2 separate regions of the Homo sapiens genome follow, and region 2 is linked to region 1. A link means that fine-mapping ties the variant in region 1 to the expression of a gene that starts in the linked region. Tissue or cell type: whole blood. Region 1 holds a variant in brackets; the other region holds the start of a gene. All regions are shown on one strand. Distances are from middle to middle.

Region 1 (6,397 bases):
TTTGCAGCCCCAAGTATAGACTCTATATCACATTACAACTATTTGTTTTTTTCACTGTTCCAAAGATATTATTACATTTTAGCAACTGGAAATGGCTCCATCTTTGTACCCAGATATAGATGAAAAATCCTAATAACCATAGGTAGTTTGATGATTCAAATTTTACCATTCTAAGATTATAATTTATTGATTGATTTACTTTTAAACTGAAAAGCTTAGAATGAATGCTAAATATACCACAATATTTTCATTCTTTCTTAAAATTTTAATCTCAGTAGGCTGGGCGCGCTGGCTTATGCCTATAATCCCAGCATTTCGGAAGGCTGAGGCAGGGAAGGGAAGGGATCACCCGAGGTCAGGAGATCAACACCAGCCAACATGGTGAAACCTCATCTCTACTAAAAATATAAAAATTAGGCAGCGTGGTGGCACACGCCTATAATCCCAGCTACTTGCGAGGCTGAGGCAAGAGAATTGCTTGAACCTGGGAGGCGGAGGTTGCAGTGAGCCGAGACTGCGCCACTGCACTCCAGCCTGGGAAACAAGAGCAAGACTCTGTCTAAACAAAAAACAAACTAATCTCAGTAATGTAGATTGTGAGGAAGAAAATAAGATATAAACAGTTGTCAATTTAAAGGGTTCTATCTATGCTTTTACTTGCCACACCTGCCATAAACTGTGCACAATTAGTAGACAGGTGTGGAGAGCAGTAGAGGGAAGGGGATGAATCTGTCCCACAGGGTCTGCCACTATTGTATTTTTTTATGACACTGGAATTTTAACAACATTAATAACCTCATTTTTCAGCACTTTCTAGAATTCCAATCAAGGTAAATATCATAAGAAATTAAATGAGAGTAAAAGTCAAGAAAACATTTTGAAGGAATATAATGAAGGTTTAGGGTACTCAACACAATGCAAGTAATGAAAGTTCACTGGTATCCTGGAAAGAAAATGTCAACTGATGATTCCGCAATTGTAGTTTCATCTTTATCCACTCATCATTATCTAATAAATCAGCTGCATGGTGCTTAGCACATATTAAGCACTCTGTTTGTTGAATACTCAGATGCTTTGAAAAATGATGGGTTTTGCTTTCTATATCCTCTTTCATTTGAAATGTCAGAAAAAAAGGCTCCCTTAAAGCAGAAAGTGCCTATTGGTAATCAGAGGGTATATACAGTTCATTAGTACTTACCTGCTCTCGAATCATATTTTTGTAGTGAGTCACAATATTGTCATGCTGTTCTAATGTTTTTTTCACCTCTTCTTCTTTTTTATCTTCTTCACTGGACTTATAAATAGCCTTAGTTATAACACCTATAAAAGGAAGCTTATTTAAAATTTGTTTTAAATGTTTTAAATACTATTTTACTACTAAGACTTAGTAAAAACATATAACCTAACTCCATGATAGGTAAGAAATAATCTTTTCAATCCTACTGAAAGCCAAATGTCCTTCAATGGGCTACAGATCAAGAGCTAGGAAGAAAATATACCTTTAGAGTTACCATATAACCTGTATGCATCCAGAATATACATGTACAATATAAATATAATTACTTTCCATCAAATATCAATATAAATCTTCAGTCTTACCTTCAAGTTCTTTTACCAGCTTCGTAAACTCATGATCAAATATCATGTATTCTGGACTGGGAAAGTTTGGCTGGGGTTTCTGAGATGCTCTGGAATACAACTCATGTTTGCTAATAAATCCTAGTTTCTCTATGAAATTCTCTTTGCCAATCCTCTTCTCAATCAGTTGTTTTAGCTTCTCTCTACGGAGATAAGCATATTGAGATGCTTTAAAAAAAATAAAATCAAAACAAAACATAAAAGCTTGGTCTACATAATGCTTTGGCAAAAAAAAAAAAAAAGCATCATTATCTCTTGATGCCATTAGAAAACCATCTTCCCCTTACTTACTTCATGTAGCTCTCAAGTGAGTTATCATTGAAATAAATCGAAATGCCCAACAAAAGGGCACATAAGCCTTGGACCAACTGCTCTTCTTCTCCAAGATTTTCTGCAATTTGTCCTGTAAGCTGAAATCTTTGTTAAGGAGGCTAAGGATTGAAAATATCTAGTACATTTTGCAATTTGAATTTGACATACATTAATACTTCACATAAGAGTTCCCATAAGAAATTCCATATATAGGCTAGGTGTGGTGGCTCATGCCTGTAATCTCAGCACTTTGGGAGGCCAAGGTGGGTGGATCACCTGAGGTCAGGAGTTTGAGACCAGCCTGGCCAACATGTCTCTACTAAAAATACAAAATTAGCCGGGTTGTGGTTGCGCACACCTGTAATCCTAGCTACTCAGGAGGCTGAGTGAGGCAGGAGAATTGCTTGAACCTGGGAGGCGGAAGTTGCAGTGAGCCGAGATCGCGCCACTACACTCCAGCCTGGGCGACAGAGCAAGACTTCATTTCAAAAAAAAAAAAAAGAAATTTCATATATATATTCCAACCCGGCATAAAACAAACCACACACACACAACTTAAACAAGCATCATAACAACTTTAACAGTTTAAAAAGTTGCAACACAGATAAGATAGTGGAGAATTCAAATATTTTGGGCATAGAACTACTTCTAATTGAGGAGAAAAACTAAAAAAGATATAAATACTTACATGTACGTTACTAAAACATAAAGGATACAAATGGAACATTGGCTGAATTGTGAAGAAAATGCGTTACTGCAATGGGACAATTGCTTAGCCAGGTACAAAGCAACATTAATAATCCAACTCTTGTTTGTATTTTGCTTCCCTGCAAC[A/G]GATAAATTGGTAGAAATCTTTCCATTCATTTTATATTTTTCAAACTTAAAGTTGCCCTAAGATCCCTTCCATTTGCATGAAAAGAACTTTAACATCTTACAAGAGATGAGCCAGAAATCCAGTTTTAAAAAACTAAACAAGAGAATAAATTATTGTATGCACCACAGGCTGCACTTCCTAAAATGAACAGAGTGCAGAAATTAGAACTGATTCATGTTCAGAGGCATATACTGGGTTATTTAAAATATGATTAGTTTAAAAACCTTGTCTGCTAAGGAAAAAAATCAGTGTGGAGGCTTTAAAATAATCTATTAATCCCAAGACCCTTTACAATAAATTTGCCAAGCAAATTTATGATATTTCAGTCACAAGTTTAAAAACAAGTTCCTGATAAAAGGAAAATTCTACTTCCTTCAAAAAAAACCAAAAAACAAAAAAATCAAGAAAAATGCAAAAAATAATCCCCTGAATCATTTAGTCAAATTCCATGAGAGAATATATTCTCTAACAATAAATAAACCATACTACAAATTCAGTCATCACACACCAGATGAGAAATCACAAACATAATCAAGAGGAAGATTTAAATTAGCCAAGTGCCCCCAAACCATTAACAGCTGCCAAGTATAGTTAATAATGAAAATTAGCATATCCAGCAAAATTAGTTTTCAAAATTTTAATACAACACATTTACATCTCCTAGGTAGAATATTCTCTTAGTTCACAATATTGACAGTGCCCATATTTATATTCCTATAACCTGTATCTTTTTTTAAAAAAACAAAACAAAACTTGTTTGAAATAAAATAATGAAAATCAGAATAGTAATGCATCACTTTGGGGAAAGTCTCATAAAATGTCCGAAATATAATTCAAAGATCTAGACAAGGAATGAATTTAAAGTAATCATCACTGTGTTCCGAAAAATTTCTACCACCCAGACTATTCTAATTTCACAAACCTTGATGCCAATATCTTGACTCTTCTATAATCTATTTTTAGGTATATTTAATATTGAATTAAGTTCAAACAGGACCTCTTCAAATGATTTGCCAGGTAAGCACTGATACAAATTTAGTTTTTACATGATGCATTATTTTTACTGTTTCCTTGCCTCTACGTCATTACCATGCCCACAATATATCTTCAAGTCATCCATGTAAATTGGAAAGTTAAAAACCAGTCACTGCCAACTGACTATGTGCCACAGAAAACTTACAACTACTCGAGTTACAAATGCAAATGTTTTGTTCATCTACCTGGTTATATATAAGTTCATTATTACTTAGCATAACCATTTGCAGGTACCAAATATACCCACAATGTATATATAAGAACATCCTATCAAATCACTGGCTGATGTATGAGTAAAAAAAAACAGAGTAAGATTTAAATCAGAATCTTCTAAAAGCATGGCTTTTGGGGTCTAATTGAAGGATAAGAAGAGCAAAGTCAAATATAACCAGTTAAAAGACAGAATGAAACACTCCATTTATTACAGAGACAAAAAAAGATAAAGTACTCAGGAGTGAACCTAATCAAAATGGTATAAAATCTAAACAAGGAAAATTTTAAAACACTCCTAAAGAGCACAAAAGTGGACATAAACCAATAGAAAGCCACCATGTTCTTAGATAGGAGACTCAACATCACAAAGGTGTTAATTCTAAGTTAATTTATAAAATTAATGTGCCTGTAATCCCAGCACTTTGGGAGGCTGAGGTGCGTTGGATCACCTGAGGTCCAGAGTTCGAGACCAGCCTGACGAACATGGTGAAACACTGTCTCTACTAAAAATACAAAAATTAGCCAGGCGAGGTGGCGCGCGCCTGTAGTCCCAGCTACTCAGGAGGCTGAGGCAGGCGAATCACTTGAATCTGGGAGGTAGAGGTTGCAGTGAGCCGAGATCACAACACTGCGCTCCAGTCTGGGTGACAGAGTGAGACTCCATTTCAAAAAAAATAATAATTGTAAAATAAATTAAAAATAAATAAATGAATAAAATTAATGTGATTCAAATAAAAATTACTAAAAGGCTTTTTTTTTTTTTTTTGCTTCTGGAACAAAACAACATGATTCTGAAGATCATATGAAAAAAGTGAGATTAACTAGGGACACTGTAAAAAAAAAGAAAAAAGAGAGAATAATGGATCACGAACAAGCAGGAATCAAGAGACAGAATACAAAAATCCAGAAAAATGGGCCCATATACAAATGAGAATTTAATATATGAAAAAGTAGCATACAACTATCAGTGAGTTACAAATAGACTTAAAAGATTTTGGGACAACTGGAGAGCTATCTAGAAAAAGATCAGTGGATCTGTATCTCATACAGTTCGCTGAGAAAAACAGAACAAAGAATTAAATGAAAAAAAAAGAAACCAGAAAGTATAAGATAAACATTGAAGTATAATTCCTTATAAAGTCTTTTTTGGGGGGATTGGAGACCAGGTCTCGCTCTGTCTATCAGGCTGGAGTGCAGCAATCATAGCTCACTGCAGCCTTGAACTCCAAAGCTCAAGCGATGCCCCCACCTCAGCTTCCAAAGTGTTAACATATAGGTGTGAGCTACCATGCCTGGCCTAGTAAATTCCTTAAAATCTGAACATGGAAAGGCCTTTTCTAAGTATGACTTAAAATGCAGAAGCCATAAAAGATAAGTCTGAGAAAAAAAAAAATCCATAACAAAACACCAAGGTCAAAAGACAAATGACATACCAGAAAAAAAAAAAAAAATCTGTAACTCATATTAAAAACAAGGGTTAAGTATGTTAATATAAAATGGGCAGAGGATATAAATAAAAGGAAAAGTACACACCTCTTTTCAGAGCCCCTAGAGTGTGTGAACCATTGAGGAGATTTGAGAAAACAAATGGAGGCTAAAACTGTAATTTGAGAGCATTCTCGGGGGTAATTATAAACCACAGATTTTACACGATAAAAGAGAACTACAAACAAAATATTTGAAGCTGCGGGCTGGGCGCGGTGTCTCACACCTGTAATCCCAGCACTTTGGGAGGCCAGGTGGGTGGATCACCTGCGATCATCAGGAGTTCGAGACCAGCCTGGCCAACATGATGAAACCCTGTCTCTACTAAAAATACAAAAATTCGCTGGGTGTGGTGGTGCGCACCTGTAATCCCAGCTACTCAGGAGGCTGAGGCAGGAGAATCGCTTGAACCCAGAAGGCAGAGGTTGCGGTGAGCCAAGATCGTGCCATTGCACTCCAGTCTGGGCAACGGAGTGAGACTCCGTCTCAAAAAAAAAAAAGAGCATGATGGAACTTTCTGGGATTATGAAAACGTTCTACATCTAGTTTTGGGTGGTGGTTACAGAGATACACTCAAACACCAAAAATCATCACATGAAACACAGAAGGTCTGTGCATTTTATTGTATATAAATTAATACCTCAAAAAAAATTCCCTTTCAAATGACTGACATGTATACTTATAAAATACTTTCCCTAATATAAAATTCTGCAGGCTAAAGCTGCAAAATATGTATGTGTGTGTGTAAGTTAATGACACATGTTAAATCATGCTCATACACAAAGATACAATTCATAACAGGACCTCATTTATTACTACCCACATTATTCAACTGAAACC
Region 2 (6,256 bases), 75 kb after region 1:
TGGAGGTGATTAAAAAGAAAAAATAGAAGACAAATTACTTTTCCAATTTTAAATGTACATACTCAAAGTTAGGCAAGAACAAGAAAGGACCCTTTCAGTTTATATATACAACATACGCAAGTGATACTCAAGTTTCACTTTGAAATTGTGATATAAAAACTATGTTGTTCCATCCACAGTGGCAAGATCAAAATGTTCTAGCTCCAACTCTTCAACCTTGTGCAAGCTACTTTAGTGCTCTGTGACTATAAAATGAAGAGGCTCTATCTGGGACTTTCTAGCTTTAAAATCCTATACACTGTGAATTCTATTCCATCTTTTCTACAGAAGTCACTGTGACAAGGCCAATAATAACAAAAACAGGAAAGGGTATTCTTCGTTCAACCCACACATAGTAAAAATTACCTCTCATTATACATCTACTAAGTGCCAGGCTCTTTCTACTTATTTCACTTAATCTTCATTACATCCTAAAAAGCAGGCATTTTCCTCATTTTACTTAGAGGGTATTAGCTATCTCTTACATATCCAATCCAATCAGGGGTGGAAAGCCAGGATTCAAATCAAAGTCTAACTCCACAAAGCAAGCTGTAATAAACCATATTTCATAACCTGGTGCCACAAACACAAATATCAGACAAAAAAGTGGTGGGCTGTGATTATGGTATGACTCTGGTAATCTAGACAGAACATGATCTTCTAGTAGGGTAGCTCAGGCTGCCTTGTTGCCAAGTGGGAATGGATGAGTGAAGCCAAATGTGTGCGTGTGTTACAGTGAGAGACAGAAAAGTGATTTTCAAATGAAAGAAACAGATTTACCGGCTTTCATCTTATGCTTTAAACAATTCTAACCAGACCTGCGCAGTTATTTTTTTTTTTTTTGAGATGGAGTCTCTTCATGCTGCCCAGGCTAGTCTCAAACTCCTGGGCTCAAGCGATCCTCCTGGCTTAGCATCCCCTTAGCTGGGATTATAGGCCTGTGTCACTGCGACTAGCTGCAGTTAATTTTAGTAATACTATATAAAGTTCCCAAAAAGTATTGAAATACAGGCATGAGCAATAAAGTGAAGGCTTTGAAGTAAGGTACCTCTTGGTTGAATCCTGGCTCTATTATTAGCAGTGTGACATTGGTCAAGTTACTTCACCCCTTTTTTTTTTTTTTTTTTTTGAGACAGAGTTTCGCTCTTGTTGCCCAGGCTAGAGTGCAATGGCACGATCTCTGCTCACCGTAACCTCCGCCTCCCGAGTTCAAGCGATTCTCCTGCCTCAGCCTTCCGAGTGGCTGGGATTACAGGCATGTGCCACCACGGCCGGCTAATTCTGTATTTTTAGTAGAGACGGGGTTTCTCCATGTTGGTCAGGCTGGTCTCGAACTCCCGACCTCAGGTGATCCGCCGGCCTCAGCCTCCCAAAGTGCTGGGATTAGAGGCGTGAGCCACCGCGTCCGGCCTACTTCACCCCTCTCAGTCTCATTTTTTGACTTTTAAGGTGAGAATACTCTCACCTATCTTGCAGGGTAGTTAACGATTAAAGCATAATGTGGAATATAAAGAGCTCAGCACAGAACCTAGCACAAGGTAAGAGCCTGACAAATGAAAGCTACTATATTATCCCTCAGGATCCCATTAACAAAGTTAGCCATTAAAGTGTTATACTTAGTCTCTTTTATGTAGATCTAAAATTCTTCTCAAATAAAAAGTTTATTTCAAAAAGGCATACACCCTCGATTCCATTAAACACTAACCAAACTTCAAAATAAGTGTATTCTAAACCTAGAATCTAAGCAACTATTAAATAATGTTTTCAGCGGCTAACCATTTTTTTTTTTTTTTAAATAACGCCGCAAATCATGTCATTAGGAGTTCAGGCAGAAAGCGGTGGACGTGTCCCCAAAGCAGTTTGAGCGCTTAAGATCCCTACTACGTTCAAGGTAGCATTTGCCAAATGATATATATTTGGGTGAGCCCGAAAAGCCGGATCTGAACAAATAACACCAGGCAGAACGACCGCTCTTCCAGTTGATGGGACAGGAGCAGGTGGATTTGTCCTTCAAAGAATATCGTTTTATTCTTAGCCAAATGCTCTCACCAACAGCTGGGTTTTAAACCTTCTCGCAGTTTTCCCCAACGCCCCAGTTTCAGACTGCGAGGGAGGGAGCAGGACTTCAGGCTCCTCTCGGCCAGTGCAGACGAGCGAAAGAGAAAGAGGGAGGGGCCCACGGCCCCGAGGGGCGTGGGAGGCAGTTCGGGCCAGCTCGGCCGCGCATCCGTCCCTTCCCGTGCGGTACCACCTGCGGACCACTCTCCTAGCCCGAGCTTCAGGGCCTACAGAGCTGCGGGGCGCGGCCGCCGTCAGTCCGGCCGAACGGCAGCAATGGGGACTGAGCTGGGGGCGTGATTGAATAACTCTGGGATTTCAGGAGCGGAAGGAGGGCAAAGGGGGAGGCGGCATGTGGATGCCCCCTCCATGGTGGGACGCTGGAGGTGACCTTCGGGTCTCCGAGTGCTCCGTCCCCGTCCCTGCCCGGACCCCTTCCCAAGTCCCAGACCCGCTGCTCCTCTCACCGTCTCGGCTTCTGTGTGCTGGGGTCCGGCACTCTGACCCCCCATTACCCCGCGGAGGAAATTCATCTTGCCGTTCAGCCACCAGGTTTACCGGCCCCTCCGGAAAAAAAAGAAGACAACTTCCCCCGCCCTCCGCAGGGCCTGGGCCCCAATCCCGCACTCTACACACTCCTACTGCTGCCACCACCGCCTCCAACTCGGCGGCCACTCCAGCCCTCTAAGCCCGGAAACAGCCGCCAGCAGCGGCCAAGATGCGCATGCGCGGGGACGTGGCATTACGTGGCGGCTCGAAGGTTGAAGGCAAAAGGGGAGCGGAGGCGAGAGGAACCTCTTAGCTAGGTTCCGCCGAAGCCCCACCCACTGCGCAGACCCCGCCTCCCACCGCAGGGGCACGCCTCCTACCCCCACCCTTCGCGGATTGATCCTGCTGGCCGCAGCCACCCACGTGGTGGAAGCCCGGCCCTGCAGGCTGGAGAGGATTTGATTAGACTACGCGTTTCGACTTGCAGGGTGTTTAATCGTCGCCAAGCGGGACTTACTGCAAGCTATCAAATCTGAGGTCTTATTTTGTTGAGTCGAAAGTGAAATTTTCCTTTGGCCAACGTGACAGGTAAGGCTTCCTGGCGCCTGAGAGGGTTCGCTTGGTTTGACGGTTTACTGGTACCAGCATTGTGGCTTTCTGATCCCGGTAAATTGCATTTCTTTACAGGGCTTTGTTTGGTGGTAAAAAGGGTTACTAGACACCCCTCATTCCACTGCCACTGGAGGGCGCATTTCTCAGCTCTTGCTCTTCAAACCTGCTGAAAGGAATTCCTAGATCTAAACACCAGGTACACCTCTATTTTCAAGTGTCGTCAGGAGGAAACCCATCAAACCCTACATTTAGCTTACTAGAGAAATACATTGTTCTGCTGTGTCAGTTTGGCGAGTAACATAATGTTTCGTTATTAACTCTCAACCCCTGTGTTTTCAGTTTTTTTTTTTTTAACATGAAAAATTGTCATTTTCTCTAATTGGTATGCCTGTTCCTTTGGCAGTGAGGTTGTCAGTACACATGCTTCTGGAATAGTCTTGTAAATTTCTTGAGGCTAAAAAGCACAGGTCTAGTTAGCTAACTGACTCATGCACCTCTCCCCTTGGATTCCCCACAGGTCTCAGATTCAGCATTTAAAATTGAACTCGTCATCTTTCCCTGCCTCCCTTAAAGAAAAAAAGTCAATATGCTGCTTCTACTGTGTGCGTGCCGTGCTCAGTAGTACCACTGTCCAAATAATTGCCTAAGCTAGACAGAGGAAGCTGGGAAGAATCTTAGACTCTGGCTTTCCACCCACACATGTCCAATCAATAGTCATGTCCTATCATTTCTATTTATAGAATATTTCTCAAATAGGTGTTCTGCTCTCCATCCTCTGTGCCTGTGACATAGATTATGTTCTTCTCATCATTTCTCATTGAGATGACAGCAACAGCCTCCTAATTAGTTTGTCTGCATTCAGCCCTGGCTTCCTTCCAGTCCAATCTCCAGTCCATCCTTGGGTGAGACTAACAACAACAAAACATCTGTTCATGTCATTCCTCTTAAAATCCTCCAGTTGTTCCCCATTCTGTCCAGAATAAAGTGCAAACTCCTTAGTTTGTCATACAGGCCTGTTATGATTTAGCTCCTGCCTACTTTTTCAGCTCCTGCCTCCCCCACATACTCTGGGCATTTTTCTCAGACCTGGATATGCCCTTCCCTTCCTTTCTCTTCATCAAGCAAACTCCTGCTAATTCCTTAAGGCTCAACTCTGACATCATTCTTGAAAGCTTTCCCTAAAATGTAGGTACACATCTATATGTTAGCACTTTGCAGTTATTGATACTGTATATGGTGTACATTGAATAAATGCTTGCTAAACCAAACTGTTAAGGGCAGGACTATGTTATTCATTTTATATCTCTGTTGCTTACCACTGTCTCATAAAAGGTGATATTGATGGATAAATGAATAAATTATTGAAAGAATATATGAATATTATACTAAGAGGAGGTTCCCTTTTTTTAATCTGTAAAGTGAAATTGTAGGGAAGACATCATAAGCTATGTGTTTCCTAGTGCCAACATTTTAAGCCTGGGCAACTTGGAGAATGGTGGGGTCATACTGCCAAAAATACTGTGCGCTAAGCATTGTCCTCTGCTTTAAAGCTATACACTTGACATTTTACCGTAGACATTTTCCATGGGAGCATTTTGTTGCAGCCTAAAAAAAGTAACCAGTAAATTACTCAGCATTTTTGTTACTAAGAAATGCATGCAAAGAACTTCACTTAAGCCCCTAAGCCTCACCCCTCCCTGAACCTCACTTCACCTTGTCCCTGAAACTCACTCTACCCCATCATCAGGAATGAGGCTCATAGACGGAGTGGGCCACAAATGTCTATTACTCCTCTTATTTAATAATTAAAAAGAGTGCCTTGACATTTTAGCAAAGTTGTTTAAAGGCACCAGCCTTGTCAAATGTCCTGTTTTGTTTTAAACTTTGGTGGGTACAGTAGGTTACTGTACTTCAGTGAGTAAAGTAGGTTACTATACTTTCGTGAGTGTAGTAGTAACAGCTTACTATGAATTTTCCCTGCATTTGACCTGTTTTCTTCCCCAGCAGCATCCCCTGCACAGGAGTGATGGACAGTTGGGTGCAAAGGTGATGAAGGTGGGATCCCCGAGGCATTGTCACTACAGAACAACCATGAAATAGACTCCTTATTTCAGAGGAAGAGTTACATATTAATCCACTTCTACTGATTTTGTAGAGGGAGAAAAGTCAGGGACTGTGTTGTATTCCTGTTTGCATCCTTTAATCATCTAGTATAATTCCTTTAATATGGTAGATGCTCAGGAACTACCTGAGTTAATAAAGGAAGAGAAAACTTGAACAAATTGTGACGGCCTGACTTGCACTGTTAATACTTCTGGCTTTCATAAATCTAAGCATTCAGGATAAGAGTCCTATGAATCATTAAAATACATATAATCAAAATTAAGAGTGATCTTTTTCTAAACCAAACCTGACAATAGATCAACGAACAAAATTCATTGGTTTGAAATTCATTTTTTCAAATTGCTTTTTTCAGTGGCCCACTTAACTTTCTAGTGGAAAACTCGCAAAAACAACGAAATATAATTGCATAAGATTGTTTTTTAGTTGGGGTGGTAGTAAGGTGGAATGTTGTCTATGCCTGCTTGGGAGGATAAATATAAATGATCATTTGTATTTGAAATCTATCATATATAGGTTTTTATTTATTTATTATTTTGGTAGGTTATAAGCCCCTTCAGTATCGTATATAGGTTTTTAAAGACGTAGCTCATGGCTATAATCCCAGCACTTTGGGAGGCCAAGGTGGGAGGATCATTTAAGCTCAGGAGTTCAACACCAGCCTGGGCAATGTGGCAAAACCCTGTCTCTACAAAAAATAAAATATTAGCTGAGCATGGTGGCATGCGCCTGTATTCCCAGCCAGTAGTCCCACTTACTTGGGAGGGTGTGGGAGGATCGCTGGAGCCTGGGAGATCAAGGCTGCATTGAGCCATGATTGTGCCACTGCATTCCAGCTGGGAGGATGGAGTGAGACCCTGTCCCAAAAAAAAAAAAAAAAGACTAGTTGAGGCTGGGCGAGGTGGCTCACGCCTGTAATCCCAGCACTTTGGGAGGC

Evidence for each region. PIP is the estimated chance that this variant, and not a neighbour inherited with it, causes the effect.
Region 2: USO1 starts here. The variant in region 1 is fine-mapped to the expression of USO1 in whole blood (TOPMed, PIP above 0.99).

What each region holds. Positions count from the first base shown.
Region 1 is chr4:75,796,002-75,802,398 of GRCh38, reverse strand. It overlaps USO1 (USO1 vesicle transport factor), which reads right to left. Exons shown (of 24, transcript NM_003715.4): 14 at 2,667-2,777; 15 at 1,930-2,048; 16 at 1,600-1,781; 17 at 1,199-1,320. Among named protein-coding and RNA genes, the nearest start is that of USO1, 75 kb to the right of the region's middle. The variant A/G (reference allele first, on the strand shown) is at 2,785.
Region 2 is chr4:75,721,194-75,727,449 of GRCh38, reverse strand. It overlaps USO1 (USO1 vesicle transport factor), which reads right to left and starts at 2,873. Exons shown (of 24, transcript NM_003715.4): 1 at 2,565-2,873. The coding sequence starts at 2,630. It also overlaps a transcript of G3BP2 not described here. RefSeq lists silencers at 2,405-2,582, 2,917-3,086 and enhancers at 2,667-2,746, 1,843-2,762, 2,763-3,683.